Linked DNA regions of Homo sapiens: region 2 is linked to region 1. The links come from fine-mapping of genetic effects on gene expression. A gene starts in region 1. The other region holds a variant in brackets. All regions are shown on one strand. Distances are between the middles of the regions.

Region 1 (2,906 bases):
GCCACTGCGCTCAGTCACGTTTAGGGGTCTTTGTACACAGAGAACTGCCAAATATTTTGTTAAATGCTCTACCCATTAAGCTCATGTCAAAAAAATCTAAACTATGTTGAAACCAATCATTGCAGAGCCCTTAAATATTGGCCACAAGTTCAACTGAATTTTCGTGAACATTAATTCTAATTACATATCTAGAGTGGCAAATTATTGTGAATAATTCCAATACCAGAAAATGGTAGGCGAAAAAACACAAAGATGACATTAACAAGACTTATGGGCAGGCGCGGTGGCTCACGCCTGTAATCCCAGCACTTTGGGAGGCCGAGGCGGGCAGATCACTTGAGGCCAGGAGTTCAAGACCTGCCTGGCCAATATGGAGAAATCCCAGCTCTACGAAAAAATTCAAAAATTAGCTGGGTGTGGCAACAAGCACCTGTAACCCCAGCTACCGGGGAGGCTGAGGCTGAAGAATCGCTTGAACCCAGGAGGCAGAGGTAACAGCCGAGATCGTGCCACTGCACCCCAGCCTGGGCGACAGAGCAAGACTCCGTCTCAAAAACAAACAAACAAAAAAACCAACAACCGATGAGTGAACTTGGCCCAGAGCGGGGCAAGACTGGCCTGAGTGTCAGCCACGAAGGGGCTGAGCCAGCACTGGGGCCCCGGTCTGGGAATCAGTCCCTGTCCCCATTTTGGTTTCTCTGTACTGGAGCCGGCTCAAGGCAAATCCGACCAAGTGCCCCATCTCCAGAAGAAAAGGACCATGGGGAAGCTGAGATTCAGGCACTAGGAATCAGCTGTGAGTCCTGCCAGCTGACACCGAGTCTTTTTCCCTCCCACAGCCCACCTCCATTAGCAAATGTTGTCTCCTCTACTTCCAGAATCCCTCTGAAATCTACGCACTTTGCCCGCTGTGGTTGACTACAGCCTCCCTCCCATCGAGACTGCCATCATCTACTGTCTGGACAATTGTGCCGTCCTACTCTGATGCCGCTCCTGCCTACCCCGCTCCATCCCTTCTCCACCTCAAAGCCAGAAAGTATGCAGAGTTAAGTCAGTCCACGTCACTCCCCTACCCAAACTCCTCTCAAGACTCTCCATTTCCCTCCGACTAATAGCCAAGATCTAATGTGCTGAGCACACAGGGCTCGATATGATATGATCTGATCTCTCGTTACCTCCCCGCCGCCTCGCTCACCCGGCTCCGGGCTGTCCCTCCAACCGCCCGGTCCCCTGCCTGGAACGCCTCTCGCCTTCCTTCCGCTGCCAGGTTAATTCCAACCGGTGGTCAATTGTCCCCTTCTCTAGGAAGCCCTCCCCGAGTAAGTCGGGGGTTTCCCGGTTCCCCGGGATCTCCAACCCTCGGTCGGGCGCTCCTGAGGTAGGAGCCGGATCCCCAGCGCTGCTCCCGCAGCGACCCCACCTGCGCTCCCGGCTCCGCCGCCTCCGTCTGCGCCGTCCCTCGTCCTCCCGGCGCCGTCGGTTTCGCCGCCCATGGCTCCTGCTCCGACTTCGGCTCCCGCTCTGACTCTGCCGCCTTCGGCCCCGGCGACCCGCGGACCGCGAGCGCGAGCGTGTGTCCCGACCCATCGGCTGGGCCAGTGGCCGCGGCACCAACACCAATAGCCGAAGCCTGCGCTGGGGGCCTTCCTCGCCCACGGCGCTCTCCAGGCTGCCCCGTTTGCGCCTGAGCCGGGAAAGAGCAACCCATCCCGTCGCCCCAGCCCGCAAGGACTCCGACACCCCAGACTTTCCACTACGTCTGCAAATGTGGACCGCGTGATTGACTCCAGTGGGATTGTTGCCTCCAGGGTGGCGGAGTCTCCTTTCAGGCAGTGCTGGAGGCAGCCCTAGGCGGGTCCCCACGCCTCAGGGGGCCTGAGAAACTGTGGGCGGGGCAAGGGCAAACTAGGAACCTTGTGCAGGGAGGGGCCTGCCGAGGCGAGACCAATAAGAAGCGGGTCTAGGTCGGAAGTAGCGCTTCATTGGCGTGGCCAGGGGCGTGGCCGAGGAGAGGCGTGTCCGGGGAGCGAGGTCCCCGAAAGGCGAGGAACCGGGAAGGTGTTAGGTGCCAGGCAGCTCCAGAGGGCAGAGGGCGGGCGCGGGGACAGAAACTGAAAAGCCTTCTTATGAGAGTCATCGTTATGCTCCACCACCTGCCAATGAACACCTATGTATTTTGGGAGTTAAGCTTTAAAAAAAAACAAAAACTTTGATAACTCCCTGTATTCCCCCATCAACCCATTTTAGAGACGGGGAAACTGAGGCTCAGAGAGGGAAAGTCACTCTTAACACTTGCCTTCTCAACCCAGGCTGCCCAGCTTTGTGGTGTGGGTGCTGGGGACCCGTGGGAGGGTTGTGAGCAGGGTTTGGGGGACTTGCTGTTGAAACAAGTTTGGCGTGGGAGGACGGACTTCAGGGGCAAGGCTGGAGGCCAGAGACCTAGAAGACGCTGATGTCCCATCCTGAGCTCCCCTAGCCCATGGTGGCTGCTACCACCACCCCGTGCAGTTCTAACCACTCGGGGCTGGGAAGGCCTGTTTATGGAGGATGATAGTAATTTAAGCTAACTTTTAAAATATTTATCTTGGCCGGGCACGGTGGCTCACGCCTGTAACCCCAGCACTTTGAGAGGCCGAGGCGGGCGGATCACCTGAGGTCGGGAGTTCAAGACCAGCCTGGCCAATATGGTGAAACCCTATCTCTACTAAATAATACAAAAATTAGCCGGGTGTGGTGGCATGCACCTGTGATCCCAGCTACTTGGGAGGTTGAGGCAGGGAGAATTGCTTGAACCTGGGAGGCGGAGGTCGCAGTGAGCCGAGATCGTGCCACTGCGCTATGGCCTCGGCGATAGAGCAAGACTCCGTCTCAAAAAAAAAAAGAAAATTAAAATGTTTATCTTGAGT
Region 2 (2,906 bases), 44 kb before region 1:
TTATTTAATTTATTTATTTATTTATTTTTCTGTGAGACAGAGTCTCGCTCTATTGCCTAGGCTGGAGTGCAATGGCTGGATCTCAGGTCACTGCAACCTCCACCTCCCGGGTTGAAGCGATTCTCCCACGTAGCTGGGATTACAGGCACTCACCATCAAGCCTGGCTAATTTTTGTATTTTGAGTAGAGATGGGGCTTCACCATGTTGCCCAGGCTGATCTCAAACTCCTGACCTCAAGTGATCAACCCACCTCAGCCTCCCAAAGTGCTGGAATTACAGGCATGAGCCACCATACCCAGTCAATTTATTGGTATTTGTGAGATGGGGTCTCACTATGTTGCCCAGACTGGTCTTGAACTACCGGGTTCAAGCGATCCATCTGGGCCAGCCTCTCAAAACGCTAGGATTACAGGCATAAGCCACTGCACCCAGCTGTTTCTTTGTGGTTGAGACAGGATCTTGCTCTGTCACCCAGGCTGAAGTGCAGAGATGCCATCACAGCTCACTGCAGCCTATACCTCCTGGGTTCAAGCAATCTTCCCATCTCAGCTTCCCAAGTAGCTGGGACTACAGGTGTGTGCCACCACACCCCGCTAATTTTGTATTTTTTGTAGAGATGGGGTCTCACCTTATTCCTCAGGCTGGTCTCAAACTCCTGGGCTCAAGTGATCCTCCCGCCTCGGCCTCCCAAAGTGCTGGGATCACAGTCAAGAGCCACCTCACCACACCCAGTTTTTGGTGCTTTGTTACAGCCATCATGGGCGAGTCAGACAACCTGATACTGCCAACCCCCCTCACTCCCCACCCCAGTTTCACCCTGTCCTGGCACAGGTACCACCACCTTAAATTTAGAGTTTCTCATTTCTAGGCAGGCCTGGAAAATAGCATTTTGCAGCAGTTTTTTATTAAAAAAAATTTCAGTATACAATTCAGTAGGTTTTGGTACATTCAAAAAGCTGTGTGGGCTGGGCACAGTGGCTCACGCCTGTAATTCCAGCAGTTTGGGAGACCGAGGCAGGCAGATCACTTGAGACCAAGAGTTCCAGACCAGCCTGGCCAACATAGTGAAACCCGGTCTCTACTAAAAATACAAAAATAGCCAGGGATGGTGGTGCATGCCTGTAATTCCAGCTACTTGGGAGACTGAGGCAGGTGAATCCCTCTCTCTCTCTCTTTTTTTTTTTTTGAGGCGGAGTCACGCTCTTGTCTGTCCCAGGCTGGAGTGCAGTGGCGCGATCTTGGCTCACTGCAACCTCCGCCTCCCGGGTTCAAGTGATTCTCCTGTCTCAGCCTTCCAAGTAGCTGGGATTACAGGCACATGACACCATACTCAGCTAATTTAATTTTTGTATTTTTAGTAGAGATGGGGTTTCATCATGTTGGCCAGGATGGTCTTGATCTCTTGACCTTGTGATCTGCCTTCCTTGGCCTCCCCAAGTGCTGGGATTACAGGGGTGAGCCACCAGACCTGGCCTTTTTTTTTTTTTTTTTTTTTTGAGACAGTCTCACTCTGTTGTCCAGGCTGGAGTGCAGTGGCATGATCTTGGCTCACTGCAACCTCCGCCTCCCAGGTTGGAGCAATTCTGCCTCAGCCTCCCGAGTAACTGGGACTACAGGTGTGCGCCACCACACCTGGCTAATTTTTGTGTTTTTAGTAGAGATGGGGTTTCACTGCGTTGTC[C/T]AGGCTGGTCTCGAACTCCTGACCTCAAGCAATCCGCCTGCCTCAGCCTCCCAAAGTGCTGGATTACAGGCATGAGCCACCGTGCCCGGCCTTACATAAAATTTCTTACCTCGTCCAAACCCTCCTGCCACTTTCTTTTCTCTCCCCATGTTCAGTTTGTGAGGCTCCTCCTGGGCGGAGGCTGTGACTGGCTCTGCTGTAGGGCCCGCCACTGCAGGCAGGATGGCTGTTTATTGAGCCGACATTCCTGGGTAGGAATCTGATGGATACGTAGGTGTTTCTGACATTGCACTCCAGCGGATTTTTACCAACGCCTCCTGGTGCCTGGGGTCTCCTCCTTCATCTGTGACCTGGACATCCGTTCATTCCTCACCAAAGATCACTGGGCACCTGCTGTATGCCAGGCACTGTGCCCTGGACACTGGGCATGGGGACAGAGCAGGGGAACAGCCCCCACCCTCCTGGAGCTGACATTCCTCCAGTCCTGGGGACAAACAGGACAAAAGATGAAATGAAATATCAGCAGGGGGCTGGGGCTCAAGCCTGTAATCCCAACATTTTGGGAGGCTGAGGCGGGAGGATTCCTTGAGGTCAGGAGTTCGAGACCATCCTGGCCAACATGGTGAAACCCCCGTCTCTACTAAAAATACAAAAAAAATTAGCTGGGCATGGTGGCAGGTGCCTGTAATCCCAACTAATCAGGAGGCTGAGGCAGAAGAATCGCTTGAACCCGGGAGGCAGAGGTTGCAGTGAGCCGAGATCGTGCCACTGCACTCCAGCCTTGGCAAGAGAGAGAGACTCCGTCTCAAAAAATAAAATAAAATAAAATATCTGATATGTCAGATGGTAGCTTTAAATGCTGAAGAGAAGCTGGGCACAGTGGCTCACATCTGTAATCCTAGCACTTTGGGAGGCCAAGGCTGAAGGATGGCCTGAACCTCCTGGTCTTGAGTTTGAGACCAGCCTGGGCAACACAGTGAGATCCCAACTGTACAAAAAATTAATCATGTTTCTAAATTAAATTTTAAAAAACTGAATGCGGCCGGGTGCGGTGGTTCACGCCTGTAATCCCAGCACTTTGGGAGGCCAAGGCAGGTGGATCACCTGAGGTCAGGGGTTCGAGACAAGCCTGACCAACATGGTGAAACCCTGTCTCTACTAAAAAATACAAAAATTAGCCAGGCATGGTGGTGTGCGCCTATAATCCCAGCTACTAGGGGGGCT

What was found. PIP is the estimated chance that this variant, and not a neighbour inherited with it, causes the effect.
Region 2: its variant is fine-mapped to the expression of CACTIN in whole blood (TOPMed, PIP 0.93).

The regions. Positions count from the first base shown.
Region 1 is chr19:3,625,176-3,628,081 of GRCh38, forward strand. It overlaps CACTIN (cactin, spliceosome C complex subunit), which reads right to left and starts at 1,615. Exons shown (of 10, transcript NM_001080543.2): 1 at 1,421-1,615. The coding sequence starts at 1,587. RefSeq lists enhancers at 4-565, 566-1,127, 1,128-1,689, 1,579-1,948.
Region 2 is chr19:3,581,596-3,584,501 of GRCh38, forward strand. No RefSeq gene overlaps it. Among named protein-coding and RNA genes, the nearest start is that of GIPC3, 2.4 kb to the right of the region's middle. The variant C/T (reference allele first, on the strand shown) is at 1,683.